3 separate regions of the Homo sapiens genome follow, and all the other regions are reported to be linked to region 1. Evidence: microRNA targets listed by miRTarBase, many of them from high-throughput screens and not tested one by one. Region 1 holds a microRNA gene; each other region holds the end of a gene's coding sequence.

Evidence for each region. The annotated mature microRNA hsa-miR-6072 reads UCCUCAUCACACUGCACCUUAG and lies in region 1 at 5,287-5,308, shown strand. An mRNA with a match to its seed (bases 2 to 7 or 8) in the 3' UTR can be bound and repressed. Matches are read on the target gene's strand: a 7mer-m8 pairs with bases 2 to 8, a 7mer-A1 pairs with bases 2 to 7 and ends in A, and an 8mer does both.
Region 2: miRTarBase lists DAAM1 as a target of hsa-miR-6072. Seed matches in the 3' UTR shown: 8mer at 2,544-2,551.
Region 3: miRTarBase lists NCR3LG1 as a target of hsa-miR-6072. Seed matches in the 3' UTR shown: 7mer-m8 at 7,290-7,296.

What each region holds. Positions count from the first base shown.
Region 1 is chr10:2,070,182-2,081,338 of GRCh38, reverse strand. It overlaps MIR6072 (microRNA 6072), which reads left to right and starts at 5,250; the gene lies at 5,250-5,320. RefSeq lists enhancers at 10,045-10,544, 10,545-11,046.
Region 2 is chr14:59,368,224-59,378,713 of GRCh38, forward strand. It overlaps DAAM1 (dishevelled associated activator of morphogenesis 1), which reads left to right. Exons shown (of 25, transcript NM_001270520.2): 25 at 427-3,180. The coding sequence ends at 636. Among named protein-coding and RNA genes, the nearest start is that of GPR135, 92 kb to the right of the region's middle.
Region 3 is chr11:17,369,969-17,381,125 of GRCh38, forward strand. NCR3LG1 (natural killer cell cytotoxicity receptor 3 ligand 1) reads left to right here. Exons shown (of 5, transcript NM_001202439.3): 5 at 2,038-7,373. The coding sequence ends at 2,544. Among named protein-coding and RNA genes, the nearest start is that of KCNJ11, 13 kb to the right of the region's middle. RefSeq lists a silencer at 1,750-1,950 and enhancers at 6,372-6,910, 8,217-9,416.

The sequences.
Region 1 (11,157 bases):
CAGCCACCTCTCTGGGGGACAGAACAAGCTGATCTTAGCAGTGGGTGATCTCTGTGTTGTAGTCACCTTGAACGTACAATGGTGAGAGAGAATAACCACAATAAGGACCTCCACAGAAAGAAACACTTGCAAGGATGGAGCACAGAAGCACAGAGCAGTCACTGGTCTTTAGTAATTCTGAAATCCACAGGGCAAATGCTGGCACCTCCAGGAGAGAGCATTGCACTTTGATTTGGGCCTCATTGACCCCCAGAGTCATTCCTCAGTCCACTGGTCTGCATGGCTCCTGGGTTCACACTCTGAGATGTCCTTTCTTCTCCATCACCTTATGTGGCATCTGGATTTCTGAAGAAAGGAGCCATTTCAGTGGCTGGGTAGATTTCCCAGTCTGCCCCTACCCCAAGATAATCTGGAAGCCTGCAGATCTCTTTGTGTTTGGGGTAATTTCAGTGCCTTTTAGTCCATGCTGTTGTCCCTAGAGCCTGTGCAACTCCCATGAAAATCCTGCAGACTTCTTTGTATTTGATTCCATTTCAATCCACCTGAAAAAAGACAAACTCATAATTAATTTCTAGACAGACTTCTCTCTCTAGTCTTATCTGTGCTCCTTTGGCTATGTCAGGCTTCTGGGGACTTCTGTTTGAAGATTTTTTGTGTGTAGCTGAAAGTGTCTATTAGGCACAGCCTCAAACCTGACAGAGCCCCTCACCAAGGGTCATGCTGCCACACCACTGATTTTGTCCGTGCCCCCAGGCTATAGATTATTTTGAGAGTCTTTTGCTGGCTGGAAAGAGATGAAAGATCAGAAATGGCTTTATTTTCCATTCCCACAAGACCAGGCTCTCTCTATCCCTTCTAAATTCTTGTACAGACTGGGCAATGTTTTATTTCACTCATCTTTTTTACTTTTGAAAGCTTCCAATAAACAGCCGAGATCAGGTAGCTGGCACTTTCAATATTTTGGCTGGAGATCCCGTTGGTCACATCTGAAAGTTCATCAGGTATTTTGCAGGTGAGAGAATTGTGATCATTTCTCAGTCACCTCACGTGGTTCACATTTTTTTGGCCTCCAGGGACAATTTTCTCAGTATTTTTCCTCAACAATTTTCAATGATTTGTGCACAATTTTCTCACATCCCCATCTCCAGTCCAAAGGCCAGTGCTACACAGAAAAGGGTCTTGTTATGTCAGATCTAGGTTCTTTAGACCCAACCTCTGTATCCCTTTACTAAGGTCATGAGCCACAAGCCCTCACTAGCATAAACAATAAACATCCATGTTGTCTCACAAGTGTAGGAGTTGGGCTTTGTGACTCTGTCCCTCTGGGCTGGGAACAGCTGATATTAAAGGTCATGTTTTACTTGTGAGCTTCAAAGAGCTTGAGACTTTGGACTCTGACTTCAGGTAATCAATCACCAAGAAATGCCACAGTGTCCCAGGTGAGCCGTGTCCACCTCCTCCCCCTCCTGCCTTTGCAACAAAGCAGCTTTGACTTTGCAGTCAGGGTGTTCAGGACTCCAGATGTTCCCTCTAACTATAGACCTCTCTCTGTTGTGTTTTCGTTGTTCACAAACATTCAATAGCCTTTGGTGAAACAGTACGTTTTCTGAAGCAGTAAGCACATGGTAGAAATGAGTGAGTGATTAGGTACTAGCGGTAGTTAATTGTTAATGAATGAGGTATGCTGACTGACAGCTGGTGGAAATGGATGATCACCAGATGAATTTGGGGACCTGGAGTAACTCTGATTATGGACTGAACTGTGAACTACAAAAATTCATCTTGAAGTCTTAACCCCTGTACTTCATAATGGGCCTGTATTTGGAGGTAGGGTCTTTATTTAAAAAAATAATTATGTTAAAATGAGGTCATATGGGTGGGCCCTAATCCAATAGGACTTGTATTCTTGCAATAAAATGAGATTAGGACACAGACACACACAGAGGAAAGACCTCATGAAGACACAGAAGGAAGGGGGCCATGCGTAAGCCATGGAGAGAGGCCTCAGGAGGAACCAACTGTGCCCGAACCTCGACCCTGGACGTCCAGCCTCCAGAGCTGTGAGGACACACATTTCTGTTGTTGAAGGCTTATGGTAGGCTCATACAGCAACCCTAGAAAACTAATACACCCATGATGCTTAAGAAACATGAAGACAGAATATATAGCTTGTCAGAGAAAATTTATGGCTAAAGTATTAAGCATATTTACATATTAAAATATGTAAATAAGTTACATGTGTGAACAGTTTACATGTTAAAATAAAATAGTATGGGCATGGTGGCTCATGCATGTAATCCCAGCACTTTGGGAGGCCAAGGCAGGAGGACTGCTCGAGGCCAGGAGTTTCAGACCAGCCTGGGCAACACAGCAAGACCCTGTCTGTACTAAATAAATAAATAAATAATAGACTTTGTAATCTCAGCTGTGTTGTTGATTTTATAGAAATATCTGATGCTGATTAAATTACACAGTTTAACTATGTATAGTATAATGGCTTCAATTGGACTTCAATAATATAGAAATAAAATGCATTTTATTTTGTATCGAAAACTAGTGATATAAAAACATATTTATAAATTTTACATTTTTGCCTTTGAAACACACATTATGAAATAATCACATCCTTATATAATATGCTTTCTTATGTTATAAATCTTCCTATTCCTTTATTTTCAAATTTTTCACTCATATCATTTTTAGATTAAGTCTTGTTCACAACGTGTTCTATATTTTTCTTTTAATCATTTCTTTTGTGTTTTCATTATTCTTTCCCTTGCTCTGAGTTGTAAAATTTCTCCATAAATGTTTTCTACTTTTTCAGTGTTTCTACTGGCTGTTTTCATTTATGAGAAAAACATAATTAAACATGATTCAAGAAGTATGTAATAATTCAGACCAGCATCCTAACCCATCACGAGACTTTCAACAAAATTTTAGCTTTTATTCTCCTATACCCATGACTCTATTAAACTTATGCAGACTTTTAGCTCTAAGTCATTGCTAATTTGTAATAAAATATTTGTTACAAAATGTAGGACTACATTCTTAATACTTTCTTTAGATTTAAATTATCATTTTCAATCTTTTCTAAATCTGGCACCAGAAGATACTCTTATCATTCGCATGGACATTCTTTATCCTGTCACTTTAGCCCCACTCTTCCACTTATATTCCCGATTCAGATTTTAATTTGACAGATTTCAGACGCTTATTTCACAAGTATCTACTCTTCTGAAAGTGTTTCTTATTCCACACTTGTTTGAAAATGTCCTTTGTCCTGTGAAAACTATGAAGAACACTTTAACCTATTCTAAAATTCTAAGAGTAGAATTCTGCAATCTCATAGTGGTACAAAAATGAGTTTACTCCCCGTAGCAATAACTATGTTCAATAATAATAAACACAAAATGTATATAGGACCTTATGTTTACAAGTCATTGAACTAAAATCTTTACACTGATTCAACCTTCACAAGACTGTGGGGTTGATGTTGTTGTTATCAAAGTTAGTGTGTCTGATGCTAATGTGGTCATTTCCTGGCAGACAATTTATTTTCTCTATTTGGAAACTTATTGAATTCTTCATTTTTTAACTTAAGATCTTTACTAGCACGTGTGTATCTTTTTACTTTTTGAATCTCCCCTAGACTCAGTGATCCCTTTCGAGATGGAAAACTGAGTGTATTTTTATTTCAGGAGAATGTTCTTTTGTGACGTCTTTGATCACTCCCTCTTTATTATTCCTTTCTCATCTGGACTTCCTATGGAGAGTTGACAAGTGCTGGTTCTATTTTCTTTCATGGCTCGTAGGTTTTCTCTCATAATATTCATTTTATTAAAAAATTTTCTCTATGTCATAGACTAGTTTCCCAGCACAAACTCCTGAGTCACCGCATAAAGTCTCACTAGGGTCCTGTGTGAGTCACAGTATTCAGAGACTTGATATAGTTACTGTCGTCTTTGTTTCCAGTTATTCATGTTTCAGAGTTCTCCATTTTTTCAAAGTAGCTTCTTATAGTTTTAACGGTACCAATCCTTTTTATGCAATGGAAAATATGCATTCAAGGTTCTTCTTTATGGTTCATGTCAGTGGAGGAGACAAAATCGTTTGATCTCTCTCTCTCTAGATCTTCATTGACTTAAACATCCACTGGCTTTTCCCATGTGCCGGGACTCACAACAGAGACAGAGCAGCTGAGTCTGTGCCATGAGCAGGTGCGGGCCCATTCAACTGTGTGTGTCCCTCACTTGAGGGGCACTTGGGCAGAGGTTGGCCTGCGATCATAACCAGGAAGAGAGGATTCTTCTTTGGGTTGGATGAGTAATAAACGAACCTGTAGGCCTGCTCTTTTGATGAAATAGACGGCCACTATGTTCACCATTTTCTCCTTGATATGGCAAGTGACTGAAGTCAGCTCTCTCTAGGAAATACAGTGGGGGCACCTGCGGGGCTGGCTATGCAGTGACTGCGGTACAGAAGACAGTGGCCCAGGCTGCAAAGCAAGCCGAGTCCCGGGAAGATCAGGGTGTCCCTGCTGCTCAGACTGTTGCGGGTGTCGTTTTCATTCCGGGACAATGGGGGCAGTGGAGACTGTGCTATGCGTCTCACTGCTCTTGACAACACCATCTCCAAAGCTCCGGGCACCTGGGAAGGTGGAAGTCCTATGTCATTGCTGGGGTGCCCTGGGGCCTGGCACATGGAGCTGGACATCCTAGAAGTCTGTCCCTCATACTGGATGCCGAGGGTTTTCCCTGCACAATGTTTTCCGCAGACTGTGTTCTCTCTCATTAGTGCAAGGAGCCCTGAGTGGAGGGTTTTGGGGGATATTTGGTGGAGGACAGAAGCAATAAAGAAGGTGCAAAAGGAACACTCATTTCTTCCTCTTCACAATTTTTCCAATGATTCATCTTCTCCATTTGAACATCCTTGACAAAGCCGGAAGCACGGATTGTCATGAGCCAAGAACGTTTTCACTGATCATTGTTTCTTCAGGCCGGGTCATAGACACACAAGCCCCCTCCAAAGTAGCCCTTAGCTGTTCCTGCTTCCCGAGTTCTAAACTCGAACTCCTGGGGTTGCCTTCAAGGCCCGAGGCCAGGTGCCCTTGTCAGCCCGTTCAGAGTCCTGAGTCCTGGACCCACTAGGGAGATGCACAGGACTGGGCACAATTTCGGCAGGGCACAGAGGAAAACGTTCCCCTTGGGTAATTTCAAGGAAGAAGTTCAGCGGCAGGAATTGGGGGTGCAGGGTGGGGGCTGGTGCAGGGATGGGCTTTGCTACTGCTCCTCATCACACTGCACCTTAGCTGCTGCCTGGAAGTCACTTACTAACGAGAGGATGGTTCCATTCAGATATGCTTGCTGCTGCTGAAATGAACATATTTCATCTTTGGTTTGCATTACATAGAGTAGTTCTTAAATTATAGCACTAAACAAGGTGCTTCAACTTATTTCCATGAGTATTGAAATAGACGCTAAACATGGCAACTCATTGTGCATAATGTACGAACCTATTTTTATTTAATGTGGCAGTTCGTTAATACCACAGCTCCTGTAACTGCTCAGCACACAACCTAGAATTTCTCAAGCTTCAAGAACAATGGCGAGAATGGTACCAAGGGTCTGTTTGCCCTCCTTTAAAACAGGATTCTCTATGTTTTATCCTGATCAACTTTCATACTTTCTCTGCAGAATTATATAGTGCAAGACATTTGGAGATATCAGAAACCTAGGAGAAAATGTGCTTGAAACATAGATAGTAATATGATCAAGCTAGAAATTAGGAGTCGTGGTCTGCTGTATGTTGAGAAGCATGAGGCAAGACGCATGAAGCTGGCAGAAACAGCATGATTTCAAAATGTATGCTAAATACTAATTTGTGTCATGGATATTTTATCTCTTCTTTCTCTCCCTCCCGTTAATCTTTTCTCACAGCATGCTCAGGCAGAAGAAGATAATAATTAAGCCCATCTGCATTGCCTTTCACTGTCTTCAGGAATTTATGAAATGAGACAGAAGAATAGGCATCCAAAAAGCTCCATTCTGAACGTGGTATGATATTTACATCTTGTGAGTTTAAATAAAATTCACACTGCTGACCCTACTGCCCCAGTGCAGAGCTGTTAGTTTGCGATATCACACTCAGGTTGCACTGTGTCCAGGTGGCAGGATGGAGCTGGATGGGCGGTTCTGCTCAATGGAGCTGGATGGGCAATTCTGCTCAATGGAGCTGGATGGGCAATTCTGCTCAATGGAGCTGGATGGGCGATTCTGCTCAATGGAGCTGGATGGGCGATTCTGCTCAATGGAGCTGGATGGGCGATTCTGCTCAGTTGCAGGAATGTAACTCCCAGAGCTGGTGGTGCCCACTTTTATACAACAGAAAGAGGTACAGTTTCTATCTATCTCAGGGTATTGCCAGAGAGGCTGTGAAGATAAGAGGTTAGGAACTGTGAAAGTTTGGGTATCTCCATGGTATGTATGATCATTATGATTTGAATAATTCTAACCCTCTGAAATTAAAGACACCCAATACTAGGCATGGTGGCTGACGCCTATAATCCCAGAACTTTGAGAAGTCAACCAGGAAGGATTACTTAAGGCCAAGAGGTTGAGACCAGCCTGGGCAACATAGCAGGACCCTGTCTCTGCAAAACAAAACAAACAAACAAAAAATCATACACTTTTTAAAAATCACATTTTATGCAAGCTGCATATATCTTCCTTGATAAGTTATTTCTGTATAACAATTCAGTGTCAGGAAGGGGAATATCACACTCTGGGGACTGTTGTGGGGTGGAGGGAGGGGGGAGGGATAGCAATGGGAGATATACCTAATGCTAGATGATGAGTTAGTGGGTGCAGCACACCAGCATGGCACATGTATACATATGTAACTAACCTGCACAATGTGCACATGTACCCTAAAACTTAAAGTATATTAAAAAAAGACAAAAAAAAAAAACAATTCAGTGTCTACAAATGGAAATTTGCTTAGTGACATAAGTCTTACTAAATTGTCTTTGTCAGTGAAATAAAGGGAAAATATTAGGCGATGGACACACTGACCAAGGTTAGGCTTAGCTTTGAAATGTGAGCAAGGACAACATAAACAGAAAACATTCATTAAGATTCAGGATATAGGATACCTGATACAGGAAACCCAAGTTCAGAATACAGGATTGGATTGTTGTTGCCATGATAAGTTTTGTTTGTTTGTTTGTTTGTTTGTTTGTTTTCACAGTCCCTACTGGCCTTAGGCAGTAAACACACAACAGGTCAAAAACAACAATTTACCATATGTATTTAATTCTATTGTTTCCCAAATTTGACTGGAATAAACATAAAGAACACCAAAGGGATGCAATGATTGTGGTTTTAAGAGTAGGAATATGGGCTCTGGTAGATGAGCTATTTTGGCAAATTTGTATAAGATAGAAAATAGATAAGGTTTATCTAATAGATACATCACAGAAGAAAGGACTCGTCTCAAACACAAATTCAAAGTGAGAGGAAGATATCCTGGCAAAGCTCCCAATTTATTGTTTGGCATTTAGAGAGGGCAGATGTGGGTATGGAGTCAAGGTGGTTAATTAATTAATTAATTAATGGCTATTTGCAGATGACCTGTAAGGTCCTCATGCAATTTCTTTCCTCAAGTTCAAGCCCAAGTTCCTGCACAAAGACAAATGATATCCCAAATCTTCCAGTTGATCTGCTGTGCTGGGCGATGTTTCCAGGGGGGAATGCAGCTGAGTGTGGCACCTGAGGGAGTCTCAACCAATTCAACAGCCCACTGTGCAGCCACGTTGAACTGAAGCTTAGCTATTCACTTCCCAGCCCATCTGCAAAGCGCTTCCCCAACACTGCCCTATAGATTATAAACGTCTGATTTACCAGACTGTGGGTAGAAAAGGAAAATAAATACATCACCATTTTATATTAACCAAAAAAATGTGATTTTGACGTACAAATACACATCAATGAACATACATGTGAAGCACTATGAAAGAAAGTCATGAATAGGAACAATCACAACAGAAGCTGCTGGCCATCAGTACAGACAGTGGAGAACTGAAGAGCACAAAATATACAAAATTAGCACATTTAATTTTCATTAAACACCTTATAGAAAACTTGAGGGAAGCCAATTACAATACAAGAATAGGCTGTTCTAATAAAGGAACTATGCAGAGATTTTAAAAATTAGTCTTGTCATTTGAAGTATAATCATAAATTAGCCAGGCGTGGTGGCACACGCTTGTAGTCCCAGCTAATCAGGAGGCTGAAGCAGTAGAATCGCTTGAACCTGGGGGGCGGAGGTTGCAGTGAGCCAAGATCACGACACTGCACTCCAGCCTGGGTGACAGAGCGAAGCTCCATCTCAAAAAAACAAAACAAAACAAGTCATTTGAAATATAATTATTACAATGTAAAAAAACCAATAGGATATTTATAGTACAAATCTAAAAACACTCAGATAATTAGAATACAACAACAAATCTAGAAAACAGGTGAGCAAGACAATTCATTCAGGCAAAGCCAATGATTCAAGACTGGTAATGTACACTTTATAGGAGGGGCAGAAAGAAAGAGTGGAGACCATGCCACGGAGGATAAACTTTTATTTCAAATAAAAGCTGCACTGTTACAAGCTGAAGAAGGATGACTTTTCATGCAGAAGGGTACACGGAGCAACACAACCAGAATGGATGAGCTACCATGGAACGCAGTGATAGAAGGATGCTCTCAAGAGCTGCCCAGGAAGAAATGAAGAGCGGGTTCCCTTCAAAAGCCTCAGAAGTAGACCAGCCTTGACCACTTTCGTTCTTAAAGGCAATGGAGTGTCATATCAATTTCAAAGGAAGGTACTTTTTAAGATCAAATCCCATATCAAACCAAATTATTGCTCAATAATAAACACAGTTTCAGACAAAGAAAAAGTGTCTTTCTAACCATCTTTCAAGAAAAAATAAATTCAGGGTGGTCCTTGGCAGAACTGAAACTCAATCTAATCAGGATGAAGATGTGAGGTTTGGGGCAGGGGAGGGGAACATTCTTCCGGTGAGTGTGCCAACAATACTCAAACGCCAGTTACAAGTGCAGGTGAAAACCACTTCTATAAAATAAAAACATGGCACAAAAGTGAGAGATTAAACGTGGGCAATTGGATCCAATAAAAGAGTGTAATGAACACAAATATTTTTAACTTTGACAAGAAATTTTCTTTCATTTTAGTGTCACGAGAATTTGTTACGTATGTGACAAATAACATTCAGATAACTATAATACTGTTAATATTGCTTATTCAATTTTCGTGTTTAGAATCATCATACACATACATTGAATGGTTGGAACTTGCCTGTATGCCGCCATTTTGGGTAACAAAAGCAATGATGTGATTAAGTCTAACACGAAGCATAGAGAGGGAAATTAAAAAGTTGATTATGAAAGAGCATTTATGATTAAAGAGGTAACAAAGATAAAACTAAAAATAAGAAAATAACAAAAACATTTGGGAAAGAGAAAGTAAGACAGAGAAAAAATGATACATTGATCTTCTAGTCACAGCTGACTAAACAATCACGGTTGTGTAACAATGATGAAAACAATCACCATTTAAGGGATTGCTCCCGGGGGTGAGGAAATCAGCCTGAGGACTGAAAGGGAAAGACACAGCCCACGGCTTTCAATTTTCATTTAGAATCCAATTTTATTTAAAGAAGTAATTATGGCCAGGTGCAGCGGCTCATATCTGTAATCCCAGGGCTTTGGGAGGCTGAGGTGGGCGCATCAAGAGGTCAGGAGATCGAGACCATCCTGGCTAACATGGAGAAACCCCGTCTCTACTAAAAATACAAAAAAATTAGCCGGGCATGGTGGCGGGTGCCTGTAGTCCCAGCTACTCAGGAAGCTGAGGCAGGAGAATGGCATGAACCCGGGAGGTGGAGCTTTCAGTGAACCGAGATCGCGCCACTGCACTCCAGCGTGGGCGACAGAGCGAGACTCCATCTCAAAAAAAAAAAAAAAAAAAAAAAAAAGCAATTACGAAAATAAGAAAACAACCCCCTGCCCACAGAGCCATAACCATGTGATTCTTCACATTCAAACTTCCTCTAGTATCTTCTATATCTAGAAAGTTTCCAAGACTTAAAAGGAGGGTTGATTTAAAAAAATAGTATCTGGGAACTTCTCTGAAAATCGTAATAAAAATGCACAGCCCTCCACTCTTCCTAACAATCAACAGCGGTCATATCAGGAAAAGTGATTTGAGGGCAGTGAACCCACTTCCCAGAGAAACAAACCATGACTCGTAAAAGGAATTTTTAAAAAGTGTGCTTTAAAGTCTTTGGAAACATCCTACAGGTATATAGCAACTGAAAAGTGTCTCCTCAAGAAAGTCTACCAGGTCTCTGTAGAGCTAAGAAGGGCGTGTGGCCCTCCCAGCCCTGCTCAGCAGGACACAGCTCCACTCTGGGCGGCCGCAGGGTCAGGAGGAGGCTCCCTCTCCTCATGGTCTTTCGGGTCCTGGTGATTTTCTGGGAGGAGCAGGGCACCAGCTTCCTTACTCCCCCTGGCTGGATGTCCCTGAGCTAAGTCCCAGGCGACTTCCATCGCAGGATGCAGCTCTTTCCCTCAGCCAGCCCCGCTTTGTAGGGCAGAAGCTCCTCCCAGGCTGAGGGCTGAGCTTCCTAGGCAGGTGGCCCTGACCCAGCTTGCTGGTGGGTTTCACACTGATAGCAGCAAACCCAGAAGACCAGAGATGGCTTTGACACCAGGCACCCAGCTTTTGAGGCAGGGCACCCCTGAGAGACAGTCCCCCTTGTCTTCACCCCATCCCAGATCCAAGTCAGTGGTTCAGATTTTGCCCAGGGAGAGGCAGGCAGTAAGAACCGAGGCTCCAGAACTCTCTGGGAGAGCTGACTGTATTTAGAACAGACAGTTGGAACATTCAGGCCGGGCAGCATTCCCCATCACAATGGAGATGGTGGTGGCGAGCAATTAGGAGGGCACAGAGAACTCTGTGACAGCAGCAGTGTCACCTTCAGGCCAGCTAATTCGCAAGGAGAACACGGTAAGGGGCTGAGCAGGGCTTTCCTGAGGTCAGAACACGTTCCAAGATCTGCCTCTGAGTGGGGTATCTTTGTGCTTATCC
Region 2 (10,490 bases), not on the chromosome of region 1:
GTATCAGGTTTCAGGCTTCCACAGTAGACACAAGCTAAGCCTTTGATATAAGGAAAATGGCCTGATGACCATTTGCTTTAGTTATTTGGGGTCTATGTAATAGTGATACCTTTTTTTTAATTTTCATTAGCAGAAACACAAATTGCCTCAATTGCTCTTATTTTAACTAGAATATCATGCAGTTTACCTAGAATCTAGGTGGTGAGGGTCTAACCACAAGGGAGTGGTTGTTTTTTGTTGTCCATTGCTCCTGCAATGGAGACCCCATGTTCCAATTCCCCCTTTCTTGTGATATCCAAAGGGGGTTATAGGATGAGCATAGCTTGGTGTCTGGAGCATTACCATATTTCAAGGAATTGACCTCTACTGCAAACAAAATGCAACATTTTGACATGTCTCAAAGAGGTTATTTCTTTCTATTTGCAGCTCAAAGAACAACGTGAAAGGGAACGTAAAATGAGAAAAGCTAAAGAGAATAGTGAAGAAAGCGGAGAGTTTGATGACCTTGTTTCAGCTTTACGCTCAGGAGAAGTGTTTGACAAAGACCTTTCTAAATTGAAACGGAATCGCAAACGTATTACCAACCAGATGACTGACAGCAGCAGAGAGAGACCAATCACAAAACTTAATTTCTAATTTTCCATGAATACTTTTTTTTAGAAAGCTCATTAGCAGCCCTCTAAAGTGACTAGAACGTTTCATTACACTGCCTTGCAATCCAAACAGTGGCAATTTTTTCCTTCATCTGTGAGTGAATGTGTGAACGTGTGTATGTAAATGTATGTGTGTATATATTAAAAAATGTATATAGATGTCTGAGTGTTGTCTGGAGACCTATACGTATGGTTAAAAAGATTTATGTTAATGTATGTGCTCCAAAACCTTTCGTGTATGCATTCACATTGAGTGTGGCTCATTTTCTTTCCCCGAACGCCATGACTGTTCAGAAGCACAATACTATCTCCTGAAAGAGATAAGAGACATTCCCTAGATTCAAAGGCAAAACAGAAGAAACAAACAAACAAACAAAAAAAGCTTGCAAAATATTTTATGGTTTCCAAGCTTGATATCCTTTAAAATTATTTTCATTGATGGAACTGGAGTTGTTGGAAAAACATAGATTTAAAATGATTTTTGATAGCTGACATTGTGATGTTGATGTATCACATCAGTAATAGGACCAGCTTTGAATTTCTGACATTGGTGTGGGGATACAGTCTGTAAATGTTTATTGAGAACATCTTGCACACAATTTGAATTATGTAGAATGTCAATCAAGTTTTTGTATATTTAAAAGTTGGACATCAATTTTTTCCCCTGATTTCATCAAGTTATCTCTGCCAAGTGCTCTTGATAATTTCTTCAGATTTTTGGAAAAAAACACTATATAAATGCAATCCATGCTTTTTTTAAAGAACAACATTGCCAGAGTATGCTTGTTCTAACAATATAGATATATAAACCTTAAAAATAATAAAATATCTCACCCAAGACTTAAAGGAAGAATTCTCTGAAGGGATAAAGATTACTAAAAAAAAAAAAAAAAAAAAAAAATTAATGGGGTGCCTTTTTGTTATAGTTTCTATTTTCTGTTTTGTAGGACAAGCTGCATTTTCTGTAAATATAGGTCTGGACTAAAGGATACATAAAGAATGCACAAAATGTCAACATCAGCAGAGATGCCCAGATCTATTTATCTCTAAGTATATTTGAAGTGATTGCTGTTTATATGTTGTCATTTTAAAATTGTGTGTCAGTAAAGCTACCTGTAAAATTTCAGTCCAAAAAAATAAAGCTCTCAGGGAGACATGAATAAAATCAATGAACATTAGAAAATAAAATATAGATGCTTACCATTAACCTACCAACTCTTAATATCCTTAAATTATGTGATATATAAAGAGGACTGTTACTTTTTTACTTTTTTTTTTTTTTTTTTTTTTTTTTGGCTTTGCTTTATTTATTTGTAGTTGGGGGCTAACGTTTTCTCTTTTCTTTCTATTGATCCTGTTGTGGTTGGGTTTCCTGTGGAGAGAGTAGTTTGTCCTGTTGCACTAGAACATTATTTACTCACTAAATTGAGTTTTTCAGTCAATTAACAAATATTTATTAAGTTCCTACTATGTACCAGGCATAGTAGGGCTACAATGGTAAGCAAGACAGAGTCCCTGCCCCCAAAGAGCTTATATTCTAATGGGGATATTAAGGGATGAATAGAATACCAATGTGTGCACTGTACAGGAATCATACTATTTAAAAATAATTTGTATAAACTATAATGCTTAGCACAGATGGCGAGTTATCTGTGCTATGTGAAAGCTGTGAAATAGTGCTCTAAGAGTTGTCAAGAGCTGTGGTTTTACATCTTTTCCTCATTGCAAATTTAGTGACTTTCTACACACTATATGGAAATAAATGACTAGCAAATAAAACAGTCATAAATACAAAGCAGAGGTTGCACTCCCCCAATCCCGAGTTAACCCAGGTCTGCAATAACACCATGTTAAAGGTGCAGATAGAGACTTGGCTCAAAAAGGCTTGGAGATGAGGAAGATTGGAATATAATGATGGTTTTGTCTGTTCCTTAACTAAAGTGCCTCTATGTATATTCTTTTCTATTTGTAGCAGGATAAATTTGGTCTGGCTCAGTTTTGGAACTGTATTTTGAAAATGGCTTTGTCTTACAGTTTAAGGAATAGACAGGTGGAGGGAAAGTCACATAAAGGAGCAAGTTTGTGTAGCTGTCCCTCTTGCCCCTTTTAATCATCCTCCTTTGATATGGCCATCCTGGTGGGCCTCCTTTGCCATTTCCATTTTTGGTTTCTTTCCCTGAAAACTGTGTGCAGGTAATTCCATGTGCCATTGTTGAAAAGAAAAAAAAAAAACAAAAAAAAAACCTACTTTTTAGATTGGTGCTGGTGTAAGTAGCCACTTTTCTCTCTTGGGTGTGTATTTTAAACTTTTTTTGTTTTTTTAAATTAATGCCAAAAAGAAAATGCATAATTTGTAAACTTAATTATATGTCTTATATCTTATTAGCTTAGTAGTTGGAACCACTTAGTCTTTAGGTGCAAGACTGTTGTTAGATAGTACTGAGAAAAAAAAAGTATGTGTTATGAGACTGTACATGTTTTTTTAAAAATAGCAATATGCAATAAAGAGATGAATTCATTGGGTGTACATATATGCTTTCTATGAATTATTAAAACAGTGTCATCAAACTGCTTTGCAGTTTCCACCATTGAATTTCAATTTTGCAAATTGTTCACTGAATCGGAAATATATACCTGTTTTTAAACTTGTACTTACTGGACCTAGAAGAATATAGTTTTCTATTATGGCAGCATTCAGTATGTTCAGGTTATCATATGCCACCTCTTTCTATACTTGGTTTATGTATGAGTTATACAATTTCTTGTTATAACTCATGTATGGTAGGGCTACTGGTGAAATTATTCAACTAGAGTAGAGAAAATAATCTCTAGTCTCTAGAATCAAAGCCTTTTTGTTTTGAGGCATGTTTTTCTTATTAAAAATTAACTTGATATGGGTCAGTATGGGAAATGGCACCCATACAGATCAAGAAATTTGTTTATCAGTATCCTCTGAAAGTTGAAGCTTTCCCTTTGTCCTACATCACATTTGCTGCCTAGCCACCCTTAGCTCAATTTAAGTTCACGTTGGAAACAAACTGCCCCAGTGACTGATAAAATACCCAAGCAGTCCAAACACTAATTCTTATCATCTTTGGAATGAACTCATGATGTTCTTGTAATAGCTGACCATCTTGTTTTTTATCACCTCACTGCATGGCTTCATAGTAACAACGTTCTGTGGAGCTGACACTCAGATAGGAGAGACCCTTCTGCATGTTAGACAAATGTTATATTCCCACCCACAAACTCAGCCACTGCCTATTTGTATATTTGGGTATGGAATTATGTACAGAACCACCTAGATCCTCAGTTGACCTTGGTGTATTAATAGAAAGGGGGGAGAATGTGAAATTTTCAGATCATATGCTTCATTGTCTTCAGTTTCCCCAAAACAATGATCACTGAAGGAAATGTGCTTCTGACAGAGGGGTGAAGTTATGTGATCCATCCAGAACTTTGCCCCTTTTCTATAACCTAATGTGCATTTTTTTTGTTAGTCAAGGGATAACCTTTATTAAAATACTGTGCTTTCGACACAATTACAGTCATGTGTCATTTAACAAGGACACATTCTGAGAAATTGTGCCAAAAGCTGATTTCATTGTTGTGCATACATCATAGAGTATACTTACACAAATGTAGATAGCATAGCCTACTACACACCTAGGCTATATGGTATACAAAGCCTATTGCTCCTAGGCTACAAACTGCACAGCATGTTACTGCACTGAATAGTGTAGGCAATTTTAACAATGATATTTGTGTATCTAAACATATCTATAGAAAAGATACAGTAAAAATACCATATAAAACATTGAAGATGGTGCATCTATATGGGGCACTTACCATGAATGGAGCTTGCAGAACTGGAAGTTGCTCCAGGTTAGTCAGTGAGTGGTGAGTGAATGTGAAGGCCTAGGACATACACTACTGTGGGCTTTATCAACATTGTACATCTATGCTAGACTAAATTTATTTTTTAAATTATGTAATAAAACTTAGCTTACTATAACTTTTACTTTATTAACATTTAGTGTTTTGATTTATAATAACTGTTTAAAACACAGCTGTACAAAGGTATTTTCTTCACATCCTTACTCTATTAGCTTTTTTTGGTTTTTAACTTTAACTTTTTAAACTTTTTTTGTTAAAAACTAAGACATATTAGCCTATGCCTACATGGGGTCAGGATCATCAATGAGACTGTCTTCACTACGCATCTTGTCCCACTGGAAGGCTTCAGGAGCAATAACCCGCATGGAGCTGTCATCTGTGATAACAATGCCTTCTGGAGTACCTCCTGAAGGACCTGCCTGAGGTTGTTTTACAGTTAACTTTAAAAAAAAAATGAGTATACTTCAAAATAACACATTTGTAGTAAATAAACTAGTAACACATATCATTGTCAAGTATTAACGTACTGTTCATGTGGATGTGCTATAGTTTTATAAAACGGGCAGCTCAATAGCTTGTTTTATGCCAGCATCACCTCAAACACATGAGTAATGCAATGCACTACAGTGTCACTAGGTGATGGGGAATTTTTCAGCTCCATTGTAATTTTATGAGACCACCACCATATATGCAGTTCATGGTTGATTAAAACGTCGTTATGTGATGCATTACTGTGTTCAAAAGGCTGAGTTCTGGAAGGTAAAACTTTCTGTGACTGTTTTTGTTTTTTAATAACATCAGCTGTTTCCTATAAAGTGGAAAACCTAAATTTAGCAACTTCCAAGGCTTAACAGCTACTTGATACCATTTAGTTCCATAAACAATATCTTTGAGAACCACTAGACTATATAGAGAGAATTAAATTCAGGGGTCTAGGGCTTCTCACATGGGGTGTTTATAAACCATCACTGTGTTGAGTTATGTGCTTATTTTCTGTGTGGTCTATATACTGTTTTAAGTATCTATATCCCTGTTGCCTCTATTGATAATAACTGAAGTCTAAAAACCTGTTGAGCCTATAATTAAGAGATGACTTAAAATCTGAATTCTTTTTTCTTATTATTTTTATTTTTAAAATGTTTTCAGAGACAGTGCCTCACTATATTATTGCCCAGGCTGTTCTCAGACTCCTGGCTTCAAGCAATCCTCCAACCTTGGCCTCCCAAAGTGCTGGAATTACAAGCATGGGCCAGCGTGTCCTGCCTATGAATTATTTATGTTTGAGAAAATTTGGGGCCCATGGAGGAACAAGTTTCTTGTTTATAAGGATTTTGTGTTTTCCATAGCAAATACCAATCAGAATTATTTTTTATCTGAATCCTGTGGAAAATGTCAGACCTGCCCTTTGGTCTCTTCCCTAACATGCTTTTATCTACTGCAATCAACTGCATGTTTCCATGGTATCAAACAAACAAATGAGCACAGGACTGCACCCCAGGGTTTTCAGACAAAGGAGATCCTTATTTGTATCAAACCTTAATATGTTTTCGTTTTTCGTGGGAAAAAGTTTCCTACGTATGATTTTTTTCTATTTTGTTTGAATAAAGCATTTGTTTTTTATGATTCTCTTGCTCTTTTGCTGGGAGAAGGAAGAAAGGAAATGGTTTAATGGTACTGATTTCAGTATCATTATCCCATCTCATTCGCACCCATTATGGTCATGTGAGGACGTTTCTGGGCAAAGGAATCTGCAATCCCTCATGTAATCATGAGCATTTCTTGTTAATATCCTCACCATCACTTCCAGCGTAGAAAACCTTTCCTAAGTTAAATTAAGTTGAGAGCTACCCTGACTCTTCCAGGATGGGAGGAGGTGTCTGAAGAGATGACTGTGATGCTGAGCAAGGACACGGGAAGACAAAAACAGGGGAGGAGCCTGTAATCCTAGCACTTTGGGAGGCCAAGACAGGCGGATCACGAGGTCAGGAGATTGAGACCATCCTGGCTAACACGGTAAAACCCCGTCTCTACTAAAAATACAAAAAAATTAGCCGGGTGTGGTGGCGGGAGCCTGTAGTCCCAGCTACTGGGGAGGCTGAGGCAGGAGAATGGCGTGAACCTGGGAGGCGGAGCGTGCAGTGAGCCGAGATCGTGCCACTGCACTCCAGCCTGGGCGACAGAGCGAGACTCTGTCCCAAAAAAAAAAAACAAAAACAAAAAAAACGGGGGAGGAAAGGAGTGACTACCAGCAGCTTAGGAAAATCAGTTTGCCGGATACAAAGTTAATACATAAAAGTCTATTGTTTTCCTATTTACCAGCAAAGAAAAAGTAGAATTGAAAATTAAACATACAATACCATTCATATGAGCACACCACCAAAATGAAATACTTAGGTATAAATCTAACAAAATACGTACAAGATCTATATGAGGAAAACAACAAACCTCTAATGGGAGAAATCAAGGAAGAGCCAAGTAAATGGTGAGATAGTTCATATTCATGGATAGGAAGATATGATATTGTCAAGATCTTTTCAACTTAATCTATAGATTCAATGCAATTCCAATAAAATCCCAGCAAGTTACTTTGTTTTTATTGACAAACTGATTCTAAAGTTTATATAAATAGGCAAAAGATACAGAAAAGCCAACACAATATCGAAGGAAAAGAACAAAGTTGGGAAACTGATTCTACCCTACTTCAAGACATAGTATAAAACTACAGTGATCAAGACAGTGTGGTAGTGGTGAAAAAACAGACTAATAATATAACCCACAAATAGAACCACATAAATATAATTAATTGATTTTTTTAAAAAGGAGCAAAGGTAAGACTGGAGCAAATATAGTCTTTTCAAAAAATAATACTGGACCAACTGAACATCCATATGCAAACACAATAAAGCTAGACAAAGACCTCACATTCTTTACAAAAAATTAACTCAAAATGGATCACAGACTTAAACAAAATGACAAAACTCCTGGAGATAAGAGAAAATTGAAAATTTAGATGACATTGGCAGTGTCATCTGTGTTTGACAGTGACTTTTTAGATGCAACGCCAAATGCACAATCCATGAAAGAATTGATAAGCTGGACTTCATTAAACTTTTATGGCCTGCAAAAGACACAGTCAAGAAAATGATAAAACAAGCCACAGACTGTTAAAAAAATATTTGCTAAAGACATACCAGGTAAAGGACTGTCGTCCAAAATATACAAAAGACTCTTGAAACCCAATGAGAACACAACTCAATTTTTTAAAATGGGCCAAAGATCTGAACAGCCTCCTCACCAAAGAAGATATACAGATGGCAAATAAGCATATGAAAAAATGCTCCACATTATGTGTCATCAAGGAAAGGCAAATTAAAACAACAACAAGATATCACTACACACTCATTAGAGGGGCCAAAACCCACTACACTGACAACACCAAATGCCAGAGAGGATATGCAGCCACAAGAACTCTCATTCATTACTAGTAAGAATGCATAATGGTACAGCTACTTTAAAAGACAGTTTGGAAGTTTCTTATCAAACTAAACATACTCTTACTATACAATCCAGCAATTTATTCAAATGGGTTGAAAATTCATGTCAACACAAACATGTGCACATAGATGTTTATAGCAGCTTTATTAATAATTGCCAAAACTTGGAAGCAACCAAAATGTCTTTCAGTAGGTGAACTGATAAATTGTGGTACATCTAGACAATGGAATATTATTGAGTGCTAAAAAGAAATGACCTATCAAGCCGTGAAAAGACATGGGAGTCTTAAATGCATCTTACCAAGTGAAAGAAGCCAATATGGAAAGGCTGCATAGTGTATGATTCCACTCTGGAAAAGGTAAAACTAGGGAGGCAGGGAAAATATTAGTGGTTACCAGGGGACAGGAGGAGGAAGAGATAAGTATGAAGAGCACAGAGGACTTTCAGGGCAGTGAAAATACTCTCTACATGTCATCTTACATTTGTCCAAACCCATAAAATATATAACACCAAGAGTGAACCCTGATGTAAACTATGAACTCTGGGTGATAATGAGGTGTTGGTGTCGGTCCATCAATTGTAACAAATAGACAGCTGTGGTTGGGGATGTTGATAATAGGGGAGGCTGCACATGTATGGGGGCGGGAGGTATGTGGGAAATCTCTGTACCATCTGTTCAGTTTTGCTATGACCCTGAAACTGCTCTAAAATATAAAGTCTACTTAAGAAAGAAAAGTCCCAATATACATAGCCAAGAAACCTTCCCACCCAATCAGGCCAAGTCATCCTACTCCTTTGCACATACCGGCTGCCTCAGGTAAACTCCCTCTGGTAACTTTCCATGCTTTCTGCTTTTCCAGTTTATTCACATCTGGATATATCTCGATAAAACAGCTCTATGGGATGGCTTTTCACAATACTTCCTTGGACTTCCATGCAGACTGCCACCATTCAAGACATCAGCCCCATCCCTAAAACACTCTGATTAACTCTTAGACTAATAGGACCTTAATATTCATATCTTAACTTTTGAGGATCCAGAGGGAAGAAATAATAAGGAGGGCTTGTCACTAGTGAGCTAGTCACTCTCAAGCAGTTCAGATTATAAGCCTTTTGGATTTCAAGTTTAAGATAATTTTTGCAAGCTGACTGTCATTACAAGGCTCACAGGAAAAGACTTTGCTCCCTCCTTCTCAACTTCCTTCCTTCCCAACCTCCCTTTCTTCCTTCCCTCAAACCACCTTCATTAGTTACTCTCCCATCAGAAGACCTCATTATTAGGAATTCTCTTAAAATGCCTTTTACAGAAAACAGTCCTCTCTTTCTGCCTTGAATGTGAGCTATTTGACCCTGAAGAGCCGCAGCTGTTCAGTGGCCTGACATTTTTATGGCTGGTGAGTTCACACTAAAAGCTGGCTTCCAATGTCTGCTAGAGGCACTGCTAGGAGGGGGTCTTGCGGGCCCTACTATCTTTCCGGGCTCACTGCTAAAGAATTAATGCAATAGGGAGAGAATCCTCTGTCATGTAATGCTTGTAGGACAATTGGCATTGACTTCTCCCCCACTGGACTGTGTAAAGGAGACCTTGACCAATCCAGAAACTATCTACAGCCATTAAAGTACACACCACAAAAGGTGGCTCCCAAATTCCCATCTGCCTATTCTGTTGTCTTGCACCAACAGCTAAGCAACACACTAGGACCCAAGTTCCAGAGTTGTCTGTATTGCTATCAGACATGAGCTGTGACCCTCGGTCAGTCTCCCACACATCTTGGCTTCACACTTTAGAAGCTGGACAGAGCAGCCCTAAAACTTCCCATTGAAGGATGCTGTAGCCCTGCCTCTGAGGTTCTCAGTCCTTAGTTGCTGGGAATTTACTGCAGCCAACTCATTAACGAGAATTAAACAAACTGTTCTCATCACACTGTTTATCAGTTACAGCCAAGAACTCGGGCTTCTTGCCCTGGCTGTTTGGGAAGGGGAAAGGTGGAAGGGCAATTGCTTAGAGCACATTATATTACAGCAGTAATGAGGCTCATTCCAGGGTTTCCTTTTACCAGGTAGCTGTGGTAACGCTGATCCTCGGGGACTCATCTGGGCTGCACTAAAACCACAATGCCTTGATTTTGTCATAAAATCAATGTATAACATTAACATGGCTTTACCCTGTAGAGGCCGTTGTGGTGACCTAGGAAGAGTGTGGTTGGAAGAGGAGGAAGGAACAAATCAAACTAAATGGATGGGCCCACTGCTGTCCTCACTGGCGTGAGCACAGCTGGAGTGTTGTGTTCTCATGGATACCGTGTTCTAAGAGCAGCGCTGACAAATGAAACTGCATCCTGGTGAGCAGGTTTATAGACAGACTCAGAAGCATCTACTGACAAGAAACTTTTAGCCTGCAAAATAAATTATTACAAAAATATAGCAGCTGTTCTCAAATATTTA
Region 3 (11,157 bases), not on the chromosome of region 1:
GCCTAAAACATGCCCACAGCCACATACATTAAAACAAGGCTACACAGGAGACTTGCCTAGACATGCTCACAATAGAAAATTCCATCCCCTGACACATGCACAGTAAGGGGAACAAAGCCACATGGAGTAACTCAAGCTAAGGGCTTGCATGCACACTACGAGGATGGGGTGGAGCTACCAGAAATGTGTGCCTTATGCCTTTGTATTCAGCTGTGAAATGGCAACCCTCTTTTGGGCCCCCTCTCTGCAGTGGAGTGCTTTCTTCTTTTGCTTATTAAACTTTCACTTCAACTTCATCTTTGGGGTCCGCGCTCCTTAATTTTCTTGGTCATGAGACAAAGAACTTCAGGTGATACCTTGGGCAATGAGAGACTGCTACATTGTGGTGCATTGACGAGACTAACATTTTGGTGCATTGGCCAGGAAACATTGGAAGGGTGAGTAGGAGCGGACCTCCAAACTCTTTACTTTCATTTCAGAGGCTTCTTGTCCTCAGATTTTTTCCTGAAGACTGAACAAAACACTGGGCCAGTTAAAAGCTTTTAGAGCGGCTGCCAACCTTATGAGACTTAAGATACAGGCTTGCTGGAGAGGACTTTGTCAGTCCCCCTTCACCCTCAGGTGTTGGGAATGTTGGCTCTGTTCTAATCCAGTTTCCTTTCACAGAGGACTTAGCTGTCACATGGGCTAGAAGGAGGTCCTGGGGCAACTGAAGGTTTCTGTTTGAGGCTACTCCTCAGTGTTACCTGAAGGTCCCTGGACTAACTCCAGCCCCCGACAGCCCGTCAGAATGTTGGCACCAGGACTTCCAGACTTTTCTATTGCATTTTCTTCCTTGCTTTTCGCAGCTACTATGTCTCCTATTCCTTCTTTGTATGCAATGTTGTGGGTGTCTTTATAGCCTGGGGAGATAATCCTGTTAAGCAAAGTCAGCAAGTGCCTTAGTAACGAGGAATGTAACTCAAATAATTGTTGTTTTTGTGATTTCCTTGAGACAGGGGGACTTCAAGATTTCAGCCTAAATTTTCACTTAGGGCCTTTTTGTCCCCCAGTGATAGACATTCATGGCACTCTATAGGGGGATGTTTCACCCCAAGTGAATACCCTTTTCTCCATCAGGTTGTTTTTCCTTCATGTAAGAGCTCAGCATTGCCCAATGAATTTAAGCATTCCCTCTATGAGACAAACTAGTTTTTTTTCTACTGGACAGCATATTATGGGGACAGCCTATTAAGCCCCAAACCTCCCTTTCTGACCTCTGCTTGGAAAGAATTTGTAGTCAGAGTTTTTTCCTAACATTTCAAACCCTATAGTGCTACCTAGTGGGATGGGATTTTTCTCTGTGAGAAGCCTTGTCAGCCCTTTGCCCAAAACCTCTAGTTCCCTGATTCCTTTCTCTCTTATGTCCCTCTTTCAGTGATCAGGCCCCATGCCCTATTTGTAAGCATAAAAACTCCTCTTTCAACAGCCAGGAAGAAGCTACCCTGGGAAGACATATTTTAGCCTCAGTGTTATCCCCATTGGAGGGAGAACAGCCATTCAATTTTTACATTCTTTTGAGGCATCTGTTCTGTACACAGCTACACTGGCATCTAAGTGAGAAAGGGATCTTGTGTTTAGAAATCAATCAGTCTCATTCTCTAGGAATTCATAACTTTGCCAGGGTGGTAGTAAGAGGATGTAAGGATAGAGTTAAGATGTTCCCTTCCTTAAAGGGTCTTGCCCCAATCCAACTACTGCACAATCTCTCCCATGGTTCTAGGGAATCTCAGGAGCCTTATGGGCCAAGTAGGTCTAGGAAACCAGCAGGGCAGAGAGCTAGGACCTTGTGCAGGTGAGCACAAGCTAGCTCCTCCGGATTCATGGGTGAAGGTCATGCTTTGATCCATGGGCAGCACCTATAATGGTCACCAGGAACCTGAGGAAATGGGAGGGAAGAGGAGAAGGGGGACGCCCCTTCCATTTTTCTCTCTGCTGTCGATCACTCCAGAAGGACAAAGGAGACTAAGGGATGCCTTTTCTCTCCTCTTTTTCTAGATATGTAACAAATCATCTTCAGCCTATACTCCTCTCAAGTGCATTCTGAAACACTGGAACTCCTTTGACACTCAGACTCTGAAGAAAGAGCACCTCATATTCTTTTGCACTCGGGCATGGCCGTCTTACCAGCTGCAGGATGGGGAGGCTTGGCCTCCTGAGGGAAGTGTTAATATTAATACTATTCAACAACTAGATGTTTTCTGCAGACAGGAGGGCAAATGGTCCGAGGTTCCTTATGTGCAAGCCTTCTTTGCCTTGCGAGACAACCCAGATCTTTGTCAGTGTTGTAGAATTGACCCTGCTCTCCTAACAGTTACATCAGGCAAGTCCATAGATGATAATTCCACAAAGTCTGAGAAACAAACCCCTAGGGAACACTCGGATGCAGTTCCGGATGCCCCAATCCTTCCTGTCTCCCCTATCTGGGAACCTCCTCCAGCCACAACATCAACAACTCCAGTTCTATCCTCCCAACCCCCAACTTTACTGTTACCCCTACAGTAAATGCCTGATGGACCTGGTGCCACTAGGGTCCAAGTTCCCTTTTCATTACAGGACCTTGGGCAAATAAGAGGGGACCTGGGCAAGTTCTCTGATGACCTGATAGATATATAGAGGCTTTCCAAAACCTAACTCAGGTGTTTGACCTTACTTGGGGTGATGTTATGTTGCTCTTAAACTCTTAACTACTACAGAGAAACAGGTAGCCCTGCAGGCAGCAGAAAAATTCAGAGATGAACAACATGTCTTCTATAGCCACTCAATAAGGAAAGAAGGTGAGAAACAACCAGCATTCACATACCCAATAGGAAGCGAGGCAGTGCCCCTTGAACAACATAATTCGGACCCCAGTGGTACCTTAGATGAGTGGCAAAGAAAACATTTTCAAATGTGCTTATTAGAGGGCCTACAGAGGACCAGAGCCAAGCCTCTTAATTACCCCAAACTCTCCATGATAGATCAAAAACTAGATGAAAATCCCTCAGCCTTTTTGGAAAGGCTGAGAGAGGCTGTAGTGAAACACACTTCCTTGTCTCCTGTTAGGTATGTTTATACCTCACATAAATAATTCAATTGAGGGACAGCTAATTTTGAAAGACAAGTTTATTACTCAGACAGCCCCTGATATCAGAAGGAAGCTAGAGAAACAGGCCATGGGATTAGATAGCACCTTACAAAACCTCCTGAAGGTAGCCACCTCGGTCTTTTATAATAGGGACCAGGAGGAGGCCCAGGGGAAGGAGAGGAAACACAAGAAAAAGGCAGAGACTCTGGTGGCCACTTTGTATAAAACCCAGTATCCCCAAGGTACACCTGCTAGTTGCTACCAATGTGGCAAACTAGGGCACTTCAAAAGGGACTGCCCAGGCAGCAAGAAGAAGCCACCTCAACCCTGTCCAGTATACAATGGGGACCACTGGAAGGCAGACTGTCCTGGGAAGCATAGGTCACTGAGTCCAGAGCCAGTCTCACAAATGGTCCAGCAGGACTGATGGGTCCTGGGGCTCAACTCCCTGGCTCCAGTGGCTCAGACTGCTGTTACTACCCGGGAGCACCAGGTGATTCTGGAGTTCGAAGGGAGGAAGGTAGACTTCTTTCTGGACACTGGAGCCAGGCTTCTGTTTTCCTCTCCAATTCAGGCCTTCGTTCCTCCCATAGCACAACCATGATGGGCATCTCAGGAAAGACTTTAACTTGATATTTTTCTCAACCTATTAGTTGCAGTCAGAGGGACCTACTGTTTACACAGGCCTTTTTAGTCATGCCTGAAAGTCCCACTCCTTTATTAGATAGAGATATTCCAGCACGTATGGGGGCCACCATCCTTATGGCTCCAGGACAAACTCCGCCTCCCCTTAGTGGAAACCAGTATTAACCCAGAGGTTTGGGCAACTCAGGGAAGAAGTGGCCGGACTATAACCACTATACCAGTCTGGATCCACCTCAAGGATCCCACTTTTTTTCCTAACCAGAGACAATACCCTCTGAAGCCAGAAAGTAGAAAAGGGCTAGACGCCAGCATTGATAACCTAAAGGCACAAGGCCTCCTTAGGCCTTGCAGTAGCCCTTGAAACACCCCAATATTAGGGGTGCAAAAATCCAATGGGGAAGGGAGACTAGTTCAGGACCTCTGCCTTATTCATGAGGCTGTGATTACGATTCATCCAGTAGATCCCAGTCCCTATACTTTGCTAACTCAAATATCCAAGGGAACTAAATGGTTCACAGTTCTGGGCCTAAAGGATGCCTTTTTCTGTATACCTTTATACCCTGACTCCCAATACTTGTTTACCTTTGAAGACCCCTCCAATCAAACCACCCAGTTAACCTGGACTGTACTGCCTCAGGGATTTAGAGATAGCCCCCACCTATTTGGGCAAGTATTGTCAAGAGATCTCTTCGAATTCTTCCATTCTCAGGTTAAAGTTTTACAATATGTAGATGACATTCTCCTCTGTGCCCCAACTGAGGAAGTTTCTTGAGACGGCACTGAGGCTCTCCTTAATTTCCTAGCTGGAAAGGGATATAAGGCTTCAAAATCTAAGGCTCAGCTCTATCAGACTTTGGTAAAGTACCTAGGTCTGGTCTTGTCAGAAGGGAACAAGAGCACTAGGCGAGGAGAGGATTAATCCCATTTCCTCCCTTCCTCTCCCCAGAACCCTCAAGCAGCTGAGGGATGCTTGGGCATTACAGGTTTTTGTAGGTTATAGATACCCAGGTATGATAAAATAGGTTGCCCTTTATATCACCTTATAAAAGAAATTCAAGTGGCTAAAACTCACTTCCTGACCTGGGAACCTGAAGGTCAAAAGGCCATTAATCAGTTAAAACAAGCCTTGCTTAAAGCACCAGCCCCCAGTCTTTCTGTAGGGAAGTCCTTTAATCTTTATGTATCATAAAGGAAAGGAATGACCCTGGGAGTTTTAATTCAAGTTCAAGGCCCAGCTCAACAGCCAGTAGGTTACTTAAGTAGAGAGCTTGACTTGGAGGCTAAAGGATGGCCAGCTTGCCTCTGAGCAGTTACAGTAGTGGCCCTGCTAGTCCCAGAGGCCACCAAGTTAACCCTGGGGAATAACCTGTTTATGCCTCACATAAATAATGTGGCAGGCTTGCTGTCCTCTAAAGCGAGTCTCTGGCTAACAGACAGCTGCCTCCTCAAGTATCAGACTTTGCTGCTAGAGGAATCTGCAGTCCAGTTAAAAACCTGACCTTGCCTGATCCCAGACACTTTCCTCCCAGAGGAAACTGGAGAAACTGAACATAATTGTGAACAGACTGTAGTACAACCTATGCCGCTAGGGAGGATCTCAAAGAAATTCCCCTAGAAAATCCAGACTGGACCCACTTTATGGATGGGAGCTCTTTTGTAGGACAGGGAGTCTGAAAAGTGGGATATGCAGTAGTCACCCTAAATAACATTGAAAATGTGCCTCTCTCACCAGGCACACACACTCAATCAGTTGAGCTGATCCCTCTCACAAGAGCACTTGAACTAAGCAAAGGAAAGACAGCTAACATTTATACTGACTCCAAGTGTACCTTTCTAGTTCTCCTTGCCCATGCTGCCATCTGAAAGGAAAGGCACTTCCTCACCGCTAATGGGTCTTGCATTAAATACCATCAAGACATCAACAGGCTATTATCCTCAGTGTTCCTCCCATGAGAATTAGTGGTCAGACATTGCAGAGGGCATCAGAAGCGGGTAGATGAAATAGCGAAAGGAAACAGGCTAGCAGACCAAAGAGCTAAGTCAGCAGTAAGAAGGCCCCAAGGTCCCAAAACACTTGAGGCCCCTCTGATTTGGGAGGGCTACATAAGGGAAATAAAGCCTCAGTATTCCCCTACAGAGATAGAATGGGCCACCTCTCGAGGTATACTTTTCAACCCTCAGGATGGTTACAATCAGAAGATTGCAAAGTACGCTTGCCAGCCTCCAGCCAATGGAAGATTCTTAAAATCCTCCACTGAGCCTTTCACTTAGGAAAGCATAAGACATCAGTGCATCCAAAGATTGTTCTCAGGAGAAAATCTACTAAAAATGGTCAAATAGGTTGTTAATACTCGTGAAACCCTCTTAAAAATAATCCCTTTAACAGATGACTTCTTCCCCACCACAATCAAAGGATGGGAAGTTACTCAGGGGAGGACTGGCAGATAGACTTCACCCATATGCCCAAAATAAATGGCATTCAATGTCTTTTGGTGTGGGTGCATACCTTCATTAACTGGGTAGAGGCATTCCCATGCCCAACAGAAAAGGCCTCTGAGGTGGTGAGAATACTAATTAGTTAAATAATTCCTCACTTTGGGCTCCCTAAGTACTTCCAAAACAACAATGGTCCCTCATTTAAAGAAGCCTCTACCCAGTAGGGCCGAGTCTGCTAGGACTTTTTATTGGGTTTGGTAATACGTCACACCCTTTAGCCTCTACTGTGTCAGCCATGTCCCATTTATACAAGACAAATTGCTGGGTCTGTCCTGAGCGGTTTGCTCAGTTCAGTAACACTAAGGAACCTCTTGATGACTTGGTATTTACTGTCTTAGCATTCCCTTTGTTAGCTTTACCTTTAGCCATTAAAGACTTGTCAGGCATAAATGGAACATGGTATGGGAACACTTTCAACTGAGTAACTAACTCCTCCCAGGAAAGCATTTCCTCCCTGGTGCCAGAAAACACTTTCCCCAAAGATAAGCCTCACACCCTCAGGCTAGGAAAAGTTGGCCGGGTAATAGCAAATGCCTCCTCCTGTTTTAAAAGCAGAGGAAAAGGACCATACCTGGGAGATCTCAAATATTATAACACCATACTTGTAATTGCTGAAAGCTCGGAAGTTTGGAGAAAAAGACATAAGAAGGATGATCTAAGAAAATTGGAAGCCATATGGAGGGGAGGCTTTCAGAATTCAGCGTCTCCTCCTGGTTGAAAGTCCTGCTGGGAATGGCAGGCTCTGGGTAACCACCCTGACACATGGCACTATAATGTAAAAAACAACACATAGGCCTTCCCAGACATGCACCCTCATGGGATTCCAGACCCCCTGTATGATGCTTAGTAGTAGTGGCCTACAAATCTGTGGGTGAACAGAACAGGAGACTTCTGGACTGACAGCCCCTGTCACAAGGGGGCATTATCTGAGATATTGGCCAGGGCATATCGTGTCCCTGGTCTTTTGAAACTCCATTTGTCGGCCAGGTGTGGTGGCTTACGACTGTAATCCCAGCACTTTGGGAGGCTGAGGCAGGTAGATGATGAGGTCAGGAGTTCAAGACTAGCCTGGACAATATGGTGAAACCCCGTCTGTACTAATAATACAAAAAAAAAAAAAAAAAAAGCCAGGCGTGGTGGTGCATGCCTGTAGTCCCAGCTACTCGGGAGGCTGAGGCAGGAGAATTGCGTGAACCCGGGAAGCAGAAGTTGCAGAAAGCCAAGATTGTGCCACTGCACTCTAGCCTGGGCAACAGAGTAAGTCTCCATCTCAAAAAACAAACAAACAAACAAAACTCAATTTATCAGGTGGACCTTTCTCATTTAGCATGTAAAATTCCAAATGGCATCGTGAGTGACTATCCTGAGTATAGATATCCCCATCCCAAAGATGTTCCTATTACATGCAGGAGGGGGAAGCTTCTAAGATATGAGAAAGATCTGCCTGTGTCTCTCACAAGCTACAACTTAGAACTGGCCCTTCAGGGGACAGGGCTTTATTTCCTTTGTGGCTCCTGGCTACACTTAATCCTCCCTAGGCACTGGAAGGGAACCTGCACTATCGTGGCAGTGGTTCCTGACCTGTTATCTTTAAATTCCACTGATATGGCAGCATCATCTGGGGACATCCCTAGCCTAGCGTCTTTTCTAGTGAGTGTGCTATCTCAGATGCGCTGAACAAAGAGGTCTATCATTTCCATGCCCTCATATGGAGACTTAACTGAAAGAGAAGATTGGGTAGGACCTGCACATGACAATCCTATCTCAGAAAAACCATGGATAGGGGATTCTATAGTCAGAGGCCTATTCTGGTTTGCTGGTATTCCTCTCCTTGAAAAATCAGTACTTAATATTTCTATTATGATGCCACAAGGGTAGAAGCTAACAGTAGGAGCCATAGAAGCACAACAACAATTCATAAACTCTTTAGCCTCAGTAGTTATGCAAAATAGACAGGCCCTAGATATCCTTATGGCCAAAGTAGGGGGTACCTGTGCACTTTTAAAAAGAAGCATGTCACTTCTAGATCAATACCTCTAGTCAAGTAGAAGAGAATGTACAGGTGCTTAAAGATCAAATTAGAACATTGACAGATTAAGAGAGAATGCGGGCTCCAGTCCCAGTTGGCTACAATCCCTCTTAAATGGATTCCAGTCTTCTTTGTGGAACTGGTTAGCTCCTTTATTAGGCCCCCTTTTGCTCGTGTGTTTTGTACTAATGTTTGGACTTTGTATATTCAATACTGTAACTCAAATTGTTTCCTCTCACTTAGAGGCTATTAAACTCCAAATGGTGCTGCAGATAGAACCACACATAGACACGCCATTCTTCTGGGGACCCTTAGACCAATCTCAGGAGGAGCCCTAACTGCTGTAACCCCAACGACGCCCCCTTCCAGCAGGAAGCAGCCAGGAGTGGTCATCGTCCACTTTCCCCAACAGCAGTTGGGGTCTCCACTCCTGAAGCAGGGAATGAGAAAGGAGGAAGGAAGAAACCAGTCAGACAGGCAGTTAGGGTGGGTCCTCGGTAAAATTCTTCCAAACAAAAGAACAGCTTGAAAAATCAAACTGCAGGCACAGAGAAGAGAACTTGTACAGGGAGGCTTGCCTTAGACATGTCCACAGCTGCCTAGGTAAGAAAGACTACACAGGAGACTTGCCCAGAGATGCCCACAATGGAAAATTCCATTCCCTGAGACATGCGCAGTAAGGGGAACAAAGCCATATGGAGTAACTCAAGCTAAGGGCCTGCATGCACACTGGGAGGATAGGGTAGAACTACCAGAAATTCATGCTTTATGCAAATGAGATGCCCAGCACTCATCAATTTCTTACAAAAGCCTCTGTATTCAACTGTGAAATGGCGACACTCTTTTGGGCCCCCTCTTGGCAGTGGGGAGCTTTCTTTTTTCACTTTTTAAATTTTTGCTCCAACCTCACCTTTGGGGTCCATGCTCCTTAATTTTCTTGGTTATGAGACAAAGAACTTCAGGTGATACCTTGGGCAATGAGAGACTGCTACATTGTGGTGCATTGGTGAGACTGTAAAACTATCAGTTTATTGCTGATAACCCCAACATCAGCAATGATGCTTATGGAAAAAGAAAACAAACCCTTTATGATCAGCTGGATCCTTTAGTTGTTTGCAAAGATGACTCCAATCCTACACCCTTCCCTGAATCCATGTCCATTGCTGTGTAACTTTGTAGTGCCTCTAACTGTGTGACCTCTTTCAGCCAACTTAAGAAGACAGCAGTGAAGGCGTGCCAGTTCCAAGTGTAAGCCCCAAGAGGTCTTGTGTGTCTTCATTTGCTTCCTCGTGTGCTTCTAATGGTGCTGGGAGAAGAACAGGTCGAGACTAGCCTGCTGGAGGATGAGAGATGCTGGCTACCACATCCTTGTTGCTCCAGTGGAGGCCAGGCTAGATTAGATGACAGCCACCTGACTCCATGTGAGCAAATCTGAGATCAGCAGAGCTGGCAGAGCCAACTCTCAAATACTTGGAAAATACTTTTAATATGTAAAACATTTTAAATATTACATTAATATTTAAAATGTTTTTTAAAGCCACTGTTTTATACTGGCTTTGTTACACAGCATAAGCTAAGTGCTACAACTCCTCAGGAAGCTGAGCTTTGACCAAAAGAAGTGTGGTAGCCACAGAGATGTGTCTGAGACCCCCTTCGAGAGAGAGCCTGTGTGAGGAGTGCAGTCAGCTGATGGGCTCCAGCTACAGATCTCAGGGATCTGCATCAGTGTTCCAGCTGGTGCCATGCTCTCCCCAGACTGCTTCTGCCACTGACTGAGCAAGGCAGGAGCTCCGTGTTGGGAGCTGATGCTGGAATACTGAACTATATCCCGAGATCTCCAGCTGCTGATCTCGGGGATCTGGGGTGGCCAAGACTTTCTCAGAGTGTATATTAGGTGCTAGAATAACATCATTTTATTTGATGTCATTTTGTTATCACATTGATGAAAAAAAATTCAGTTCCCAACCTGAGCCACTGTCTGTGTGGAGTTTGCATGTTCTGCATGGGTTTTCATCAGGTACTCTGGTTTCCTCCCACATCGCAAAAATGAGCACTTCCAGTAAATTGGGGTGTCTAGATGGTGCCACAGTGAGTGAGGGTGTGGGTGTGAGCATGCCCTACAGCCAGATACCATCCTCTCCAGGGTTGATGCCCACTTAGTGCTCTGAGCCACTGGGATAGGCTCTGGCCACCCACAACTCTGAACTGGAATCATTGGGTGAGTAATTATTATTTGTTTTTAGTAATTTTTTTTTTTTTGAGACAAAGTCTCACTCTGTCACCCAGGCCAGAGTGCAGTGGCACAATCTTGGCTTACTGCAACCTCCACCTCCTGGGCTCAAGCGATACTCCCACCTCAGTTTCCTGAGTAGCTGGGACTACAGGCGCATGTCACCATGCCTGTCTAATTTTTTGTTGTTGTTGTTGTTGCGATAAGGTCTCGCTGTATTGTCCAGGCTGGTCTCAAACTCCTGAGCTCAAGCTATCCTCCTGCCTTGGGCTCCCAAAGTGCTAGGATTACAGGCATGAGCCACTGTGCCTGGCCTAGTATTGGTCATTAGTATTAGTAATCATTCCTAAATGTATATGTAAACATTTATTTCAGTGTTAAATATTGAAGTGTTTGGTCTTTATTTAGAAGTTTGATGTTGTGTTTTATGACCAGAAATATGCTGTGAACTTAATTCTTTCTTATAGCAGTTAGCCTATGGGAAAATTGGTTTTGTTCTACATTATTTTATTTAAAGTCATAATTTCCAAGATCCTATCAACTCCATTAAGTGAGGACTTACTGTACTGTAGCCTGAGGCTCATCTTAGTCTTCCCTCATCCCCCCTGCCTTTCCTTCACAGTCAGCCTGCATGGTGGTCTGAGGCCTTCC